2 linked regions of the Homo sapiens genome follow. The protein of the gene in region 1 interacts with the protein of each later gene in a biochemical or structural test. Each region holds a gene or a part of one and is shown on either strand. Other genes may lie near its edges.

Region 1 (3,786 bases):
GCAGAAAAATCACCCAAAGGTAACATCTTGCCAGACCCATTTTTCAACTGGAGATTTACCTGACAGCGAATCATAACATGGGTCACTTTAGACTTGCCGTCATTGCTCTCCCCTTTGTCATCACCAGTGCGCACAGAAAGAACAAAATCTCCAGGGTGGCTCTGGCTCTCTCGTACAAGAAAACTACCATGTTTTCCTTTTTCAGTTAATAATTTCTCTGCTTCTTTCCCAGAGAGATGTCCATGAAACCACCTAAAGTTTTTAAAAAATAAAAAAGAATTTAGCTCTACTATGGGTTCATGTTGTTCTTTCACAAAACTACTGTATACAGTCAGCTCTCCTAAACACAATTAAAAAGTAGACACATTCCTCCAAGGGATTGATCAATCCCACCTGAGACAGAAAATCTGCATCCCATGCAGGCAGGAAAAACCACAAAGATGGTAAGAATGACCACTAAACTTCTTAAATGAGTCCACAGTCCTTTAGAGACAAATGCCCCAATCTTTCCTGTTTTTTTTTAAATCCCTCCTCTTTTAAAAATGCAATTTGCCATTCGTCCATTGCCCAATCTTAAAAGGACCAACTGTTTAATTATAGCCATTTAAAGAAGTTACAGGCCATGCATAGTGGCTTATGCCTGTAATCCCAACACTTTGGAAGGCCAAGGCAGGAAGATCACTTGAGGCCAGGAGTTCAAGACCAGTCTGGGCAACACAGTGAAATCCCCATCTTCACAAAACAATTAAAAATTAGCCTGGCATGGTGGCAACTGCCTGTAATCCCAGCTATACACAAGGCCGAGGCAGGAGGATCACTTGAGTCCAGGAGGTCGAGGCTGCAGTGCGCTATGATCATGCCACCGCACTCCAGCTTGGGTGACAGAGCAAGACCCTGTCTCAAGAAAAAAAAATAAAAGTCGGCCGGACGTGGTGGCTCATGCCTGTAATCCCAACACTTTGGGAGGCCGAGGCAGGTGGATCACCTGAGGTCAAGAATTCGAGACCAGCCTGACCAACATGGTGAAACCCTGTCTCTGCTAAAAATACAAAATTGGCCGGGTGTGGTGGCAAGTGCCTGTAATCCCAGCTACTCAGGAGGCTGAGGCAGGAGAATCACTTGAACCTGGGAGGCGGAGGTTGCAGTGAGCTGAGATCGCACCATTGCACTCCAGCCTGGGTGACGAGCGAAACTCCATCTCAAAAAAAATAAATAAATAATTTGTAAAAATAAAGTCAAAATAAAGAAGTTGTAATAAAAAGTTGTAATAGAGACAGGCACGGTGGCTCACGCCTATAATCCCAGCACTTTGAGAGGTCAAGGTGGGCGGATCACCTGAGTTCAGGAGTTTGAGACCAGCCTGGCAAACATGACAAAACCCTGTCTCTACTAAAAATACAAAAATTAACTGGGCATGGTGGCACATGCCTGTAGTCCCAGCTACTCGGGAGGCTGAGGCAAGAGAATTACTTGAATCTGGGAGGCGGAGGTTGTAGTGAGCCGAGATCGCGTCACTTGACTCCAGCCTGGGTGACAGAGTGAGACTCCATCTCAAATAAATAAATTAAAAAAAAGAAAGAAAAAGTTGTAACAGAGACAGAAAATCATTTTGAATGTTTGTCCTTGCCTTGGCATGTGAACACTCAATTAAAAAGGATCTTCATTATAAATTAATTCAAACATTCCAACCTTTTCCATATATACAACCTATACTTCAACAGCCTCCAGTGTCTTTGGACTATATCCTGGGTGATCATCTCAAACTGTATAATGCACATAAGACTTGGAGTAAAAATGAGGGATTTTGCTAAAAATATGAATTCCCAGGCTCCACAACCAGCAATATCAATACATGTAAGTCTGAATGAGGCCCAGGAATCTGCATTTTAACCAGCACATCAGACAGTCCTGATGTAGGCATCCAAAGCCATCCAAGGACAGACTTTGAGACAATACTGCTCCATGTTTTTTGGGAAGCATCTTAACATAGTTCTAATAATAAAGTGGCTTTTTCCCTCAGGATCTTGGTCAGAAAGCAAGTACTATCATGGCAGGTGGTGTTAAGGGCTCATCATCAAAAGAATAAACTTTGAGTTATTCTTCATCCATACTCAACTGAAAACAGTAAAATTTAGAAATAAACTGTACAGAGTTGGCTGACAGCCTTTTGCCTGAAGCTACGGTGGTAGCTAGAGAAACAAATTATCAGCACATAATAGCACTGACATAAAGGTATAAGCTGAAAAAATCATACCTGAAGACACAAAATATACAAACTAACTAAGAGATCCTGAATTTGCACCAAGTCAGAGAGGAGATTGGGAATGTACAAAACGAATACAATCAATAAATAAGTCAAGCCCATGCTTTCATCAGCCTAGTTCCAACACAGGGGGAAAGATCTCGAAAATAACATAATTTTCTCTAAGCAAGGTCATTCTCACATAATTGTGGTGATAACATTAAAAGAACTGATGAAAAAGCTGACCCTCTGAGCTCTCTGCTTTTCCACTTCTGAGCTTAAACTGACATCTGTTGGTGACATTGCTGAATAACTGGTCGAGAGCCACCATAGAAAACTGCTGCTATTTTGGTGTCTCCATTATCATTTGTTTTCCTCTAATAACTCTCAAAGATTATCTGCTGAAGTTCAATAAGTCTTAAAACTAATACACGTACCAAGTATATGCAGGAATGGTATGCAACCCCTATAGGATGAGTGTAAGTAACACTGATTAAAACTTTTGCAGGAAAAAGGTACTCTGAAAATAATTTGATGCTATTAGTCTCACTTTAGTAATTCTTTAAAGATTACAGCTCAAAAAACAGTCACAAGCCTTTGGAGTCAGAGAGTCATACACAGACCGTCATGCATTTCTGACACTCAGGGCACAAGGGAGCAGCAGACTTTGTGGTCACTAAAATGTTACTGACCTTTCAGAGGTAGGATCTGCACAGTTCAGAGGATATTTAAGCTCAATGACATCTCCATTCTTCTCTTTTAATTGCCCGTGATGTTCCATGTAATACTGGACCAACTCAGCCAAAGTGGCAAATTTCTCCCCTCCATACAGGTCATAGTAATCACCAGTGTTCTGAATCTTGATGTGGGTGACAGCTCCATTTCTTCTAAAATAGTCCATTGGAAAGGGAGGCAAGGGGACAAATAAAGAGTTACACCAGTAAAATCAGATCTCATCTTCCACGTCGGATTTTACCTAAGTGTTGAAAGAAACCCAAGGAACGAATTTACCTATTCCCTATAAGAAATACGATGGGTGAAATAACCACATGTCAACCAACTCAACACAAAGGTCTTTATTAGTATCTTTACCTTGCATATCTTTTTTTTTTTTTTTTGAGATGGAGTTTCGCTCTTATTGCCCAGGCTGGAGTGCAATGACGTGATCTCGGTTCACCGCAACCTTCGCGGTGGATTTACATACATTATAAATCCAGGTTCAAGTGATTCTCCTACCTCAGCCTCCCAAGAAGCTGGGATTACAGGAATGCGCCACCACGCTCAGCTACTTTTGTATTTTTAGTAGAGATGAGGTTTCTCCATGTTGGTCAGGCTGGTCTGAAACTCCTAACCACAGGTGATCCACCCACCTCGGCCTCCCAAAGTGCTGAGATTACAGGCGTGAGCCACCACGCCCGGCCTACCTTGTATATCTTCTATTTTGAATGACTGGCCTATCGAATTGCATATATTAAGTGACAATAACTGTATAGCTACCAAAACACTTGTACAAAAATATTCATTGCCACTTTATTCATAATAGA
Region 2 (3,786 bases), on another chromosome or scaffold:
TTTTTCAGTTTGTCAGTGTAAACAACACTGCTTACTTTTGAACCCATTCCACAAGAGGAAGCAGCCAGGGACGGGTGTCTGCACGCCTGTCCCTATGGAGGCGGGGCTGGGGGGGGCCCTGGAACCAGGATGCAGGATAGATGGTGACTGACACCCACAGTTCGTCCTGCCCGTGGGGGATTTTGACGGGTGGGCATGGCCCTGGAGGAGAAGGGGGTGTTTGGAGGGGAACAGGTCACACTCTCGGGAAACAAAGTGGGGAGGCTAAGCCTCGAAGTGTTTCCAAGAGCAAGTCAGAGCTCAGAGAAGGGTCCTGTCCCAGACTTCACTGGGCTTCTAGGGGATGCTATCTTATTGCTTTCCAATTCCCCATGGAAGCGGCCAAGGCCCTCTGTGTGGTCAGGCTTGGTAAGGAGGACCCAGGAGATGAAGTAGCAATGGGAGAGGAGGGACACAGGCTGGGGCCCTGGGGCTGATGACAAGAAAGCAAAGCTGGGGTGGGGGTATTGACGACTCCTCCTTCCCTCGCTGCACACGGCCCCTCTCCACCAGCAGCACTCCCCAGCTGGCCGAGGCCCAGGGTAATAGATCTTTCCCCTCCCTAGACTCTGGGCAACTCCAGGGCAGGGATGTTGTACCCATGTGTACTGAATGAATGAATGAAGGAAGGAACAAATGAATGCATGCATGCATGAGGCTGGTATTCCCTGCCCCCTGCCCCCAGCACTAAATGTGCACCGTGATTGACAAGCAGCTGTCACTATCACTTCAGAGACCCAGGCCAGCTCTCCAAATCCCCACAGGCCCTTCCACTGCCTCACTAGATGAGGCTGGGGAGCCCTGACTCTGCAGGCACTTCCGGGAGCAGCCCTCAACACACCACTGAATGCTCAGAGCTATGTGGCAACTGGAGATGCCCTCCGGGCTCCAGTACTGATTAAAATTCAGGTGTTTCAGACAGAATTTATGCTGGAAATTTTAGATACCTTTAAGAAAAATAGGTCTTATCTAGAGCCATGGTGGGATTTTCCAGGAAAAACGCCACTGTGCAATTACGGGAGCATTTCCCCAGACATTTCCCCAGTCATTGAGACAGTAAACAATGGGTGAAGTGAAATACTGAGAAGGATGGGCGAAGATCTGGGTGCAGTTTATGCAGTGAGAAGATGGCTTCATTTACTGTCCTAGGGCTGGTTTTCAAACACACCTTCATTTACTGTCCTGGGTTTGGTTTTCAAACACACCTTCATTTACTGTCAGGGTCTCACTGAAAGTACACTAAGAAAGCTGGAATTAGGAGCATGACTTCATGAACCTGCCAACTGCTCTTCCCTGGGGTAAGTATCAAAACTAATAAATGCTGGACTTTTTAAAAGCCTGCCCCAAAATACAAAGCACTTTAAATGACAGCTGTACTTTAGTGACAAATACTCCCCACATTATATATGAGAATGAATCAGACATAAAGCACAGCTTCTCTGTAAACTTGACCAGCTGCAGAGCTCCGTGGCATCGTCAGCTTACCTTGGCTTTTTTGTCATCGCTTCCAGTCCCGTCTTTGCTTTTACTGACCATGCGAGCTGATAAAATATAAAATAAGAATGCTTGTCACACTCCATTTTCACTGTTCACAGAAAGCCAGCTGTGGTGAAGCTGGATTTCTCTGGGATAGGTCCATGTTTGTTTAGTTGGGTCTGGTGGAAACCCAGTTGGTTCTCTTTTCCCTTGAATCTGCTAGGCCTCGCATTGTTAGTATCAACACAGCACACTGGGGTCACTGATTAGCGCAACCTGGCAAGAGGGGGCAGCAGGCTGGCCGAGGGTGGGACCATGCAGAGGGGACGCAGCAGAAACTGTCACGGGGACATGATGGCATGGAGGCTATCTAAGGAAGGTGCAGTCTCCCTAACCCACAGGCTCCTGCCCTGTTTCTGCCAGGGTCAGCCTCACCCCACTGGGACCAGCCCCACTCCATGGATGGGTGTTTTAAAAGCCTCAGGGCCATGGATGTTGGTAGCTCAGTGAGGACCCAGCCTCCTGCAAGATCCAAGGATGGGGGTGGGTGCATTGTCTCCACACTGCAGCCAGGCTTGGCCCTGATTCCCTGTGAGGTGCCTGCTCACCCTCTTGGCCTTGGAAACTGCCTGGAACCACCCGGCTCCCCTGCCCATGTGGCTAGATTGCCAGCAGTCCTGATTTCCACCTTCCTGGCCATCTTATGCTGACCAACCCATCTCCATTTCTGGTCACACGCCTCCAGAATAGGAGAGGCTGGCAGGGTTGTCTTTGTCCCCTAGTTGCTGGTTGTACCCCCAGGGCCTGCCCCTCACTAATGGTGGCTTTGGCCACCAGCCCCAGCTGCTCTGAGACGAGCCAAGCCCAGCCCAGCCCTGAGCCAGGCCTGGTGGGTTTCTTGCCACTTACTGGTCTTCAAAGGGCACGAATTCTCACTGCTTCCCCAAATTAGCTACAAACCAGTTACCATCATACATTCCCACAGACAACATCAGCCTTCATCACACTCCTTGGTGAAACCAACCCGCTGACCTGTCAGCCAGCATCAGCGCTAACTCACCCTTCTCCTTCTCTTGACAGTCACTGCTGAAAACTGATCATAGATTTTCTTCTTTGGTTTCAATATCACATTCCCTCTACCCCATGGACAACTGGGTCTCTTGGAGCTTCTCATTGGCTATTGTCACCTGGATTTCTAGAGGGACCAGCAATGAGTATGCCCAGAGGTTTTCCAACTATACTATGTGGCAGAATCACCTGCTAAAAGACTCCCAGGCTTACCCCACAACTGGGTCTGTAAGCCTAAAGTGGCACCTGGGAACCTGCACTTTAGTAAGAGCCCCAGGCGGATCTGACTCACGTGTTCTTTGTTTTGCCCACATCAACCAGCACCATCCACGGCACAACAAAAGAATCTGCTAAATCGGCATTTCCCAAACTTCCTCCAGGAAATGTTAGCAGGTAGAATCAAGTAAGTTTGGGAAACCCACTCTGTGACCTTCTCAGAGGGTCACAATGGCCATTAGTACATTAAAGGCTCTGACAAGTCCTGCAGCAGAAAAGCCTGTTTAACTTACTTTAGTCTTTTATTTTTTTCCCCCAGTCACTGGGCCATGGAACTCTTTTTTAATCCAAACACACCTATGAACCTCTAGTAGGCCAGTATTCAAGAAAACATCATTTCAGGAAATATTGTAGTAACCTGTCAAGTCAGTTATTTGTCCCCTACTGTTTTGGAATTTAACAAAGGATATAGGATATATTTTTTTCTCTCTTAACTTTATTTTATTTTATTTTTTGAGACAGAGTCTCACTCTGTCGCCCAGGCTTAGGGTACAGTGGTGTGATCTTGGCTCACTGTAACCTCTGCCTCCTGGGTTCAAGCACTTATCCTGCTTCAGCCTCCCCAGTAGCTGGGACTACAGGTGCCCGCCACCACGCCCAGCTAATTTTTTGTAATTTTAGTAGAGACAGGGTCTCACCATGTTGGCCAGGCTGGTCTCGAACTCCTAACCTCAAATGATCCACCTGCCTTGGCCTCCCAAAGTGCTGAGATTACAGGCGTGAGCCATCGCCCCCAGCCTCTGTCTTAACTTTTAAACACAGGCTTCTTTATAGCATTTCAAAGTTTTCCCTAAAAGTAAAATCTAATAAAAATTTAACAGATGCTTGCAACTGTGAGCTTCAGTAACATCCATTTCTGGGCTCTGCAAATAACTGTGAAATGCTAAGGGTCCCAAATTTATGAACAAGCTCGCCTTGTGGCTCTGA

What was found.
Region 2: of the proteins of PTPN11 (region 1) and MAPT, one has a biochemical effect on the other in vitro, tested with the Homo sapiens proteins (one study listed by BioGRID).

What each region holds. Positions count from the first base shown.
Region 1 is NC_000012.12:112,449,661-112,453,446, reverse strand, and holds part of PTPN11 (tyrosine-protein phosphatase non-receptor type 11), read right to left. Parts: intron 3,130-3,786; coding exon 2,935-3,129; intron 253-2,934; coding exon 60-252; intron 1-59. UniProt on the Homo sapiens protein: Acts downstream of various receptor and cytoplasmic protein tyrosine kinases to participate in the signal transduction from the cell surface to the nucleus. Positively regulates MAPK signal transduction pathway. Dephosphorylates GAB1, ARHGAP35 and EGFR.
Region 2 is NC_000017.11:45,984,834-45,988,619, reverse strand, and holds part of MAPT (microtubule-associated protein tau), read right to left. Parts: intron 1,581-3,786; coding exon 1,525-1,580; intron 1-1,524. UniProt on the Homo sapiens protein: Promotes microtubule assembly and stability, and might be involved in the establishment and maintenance of neuronal polarity.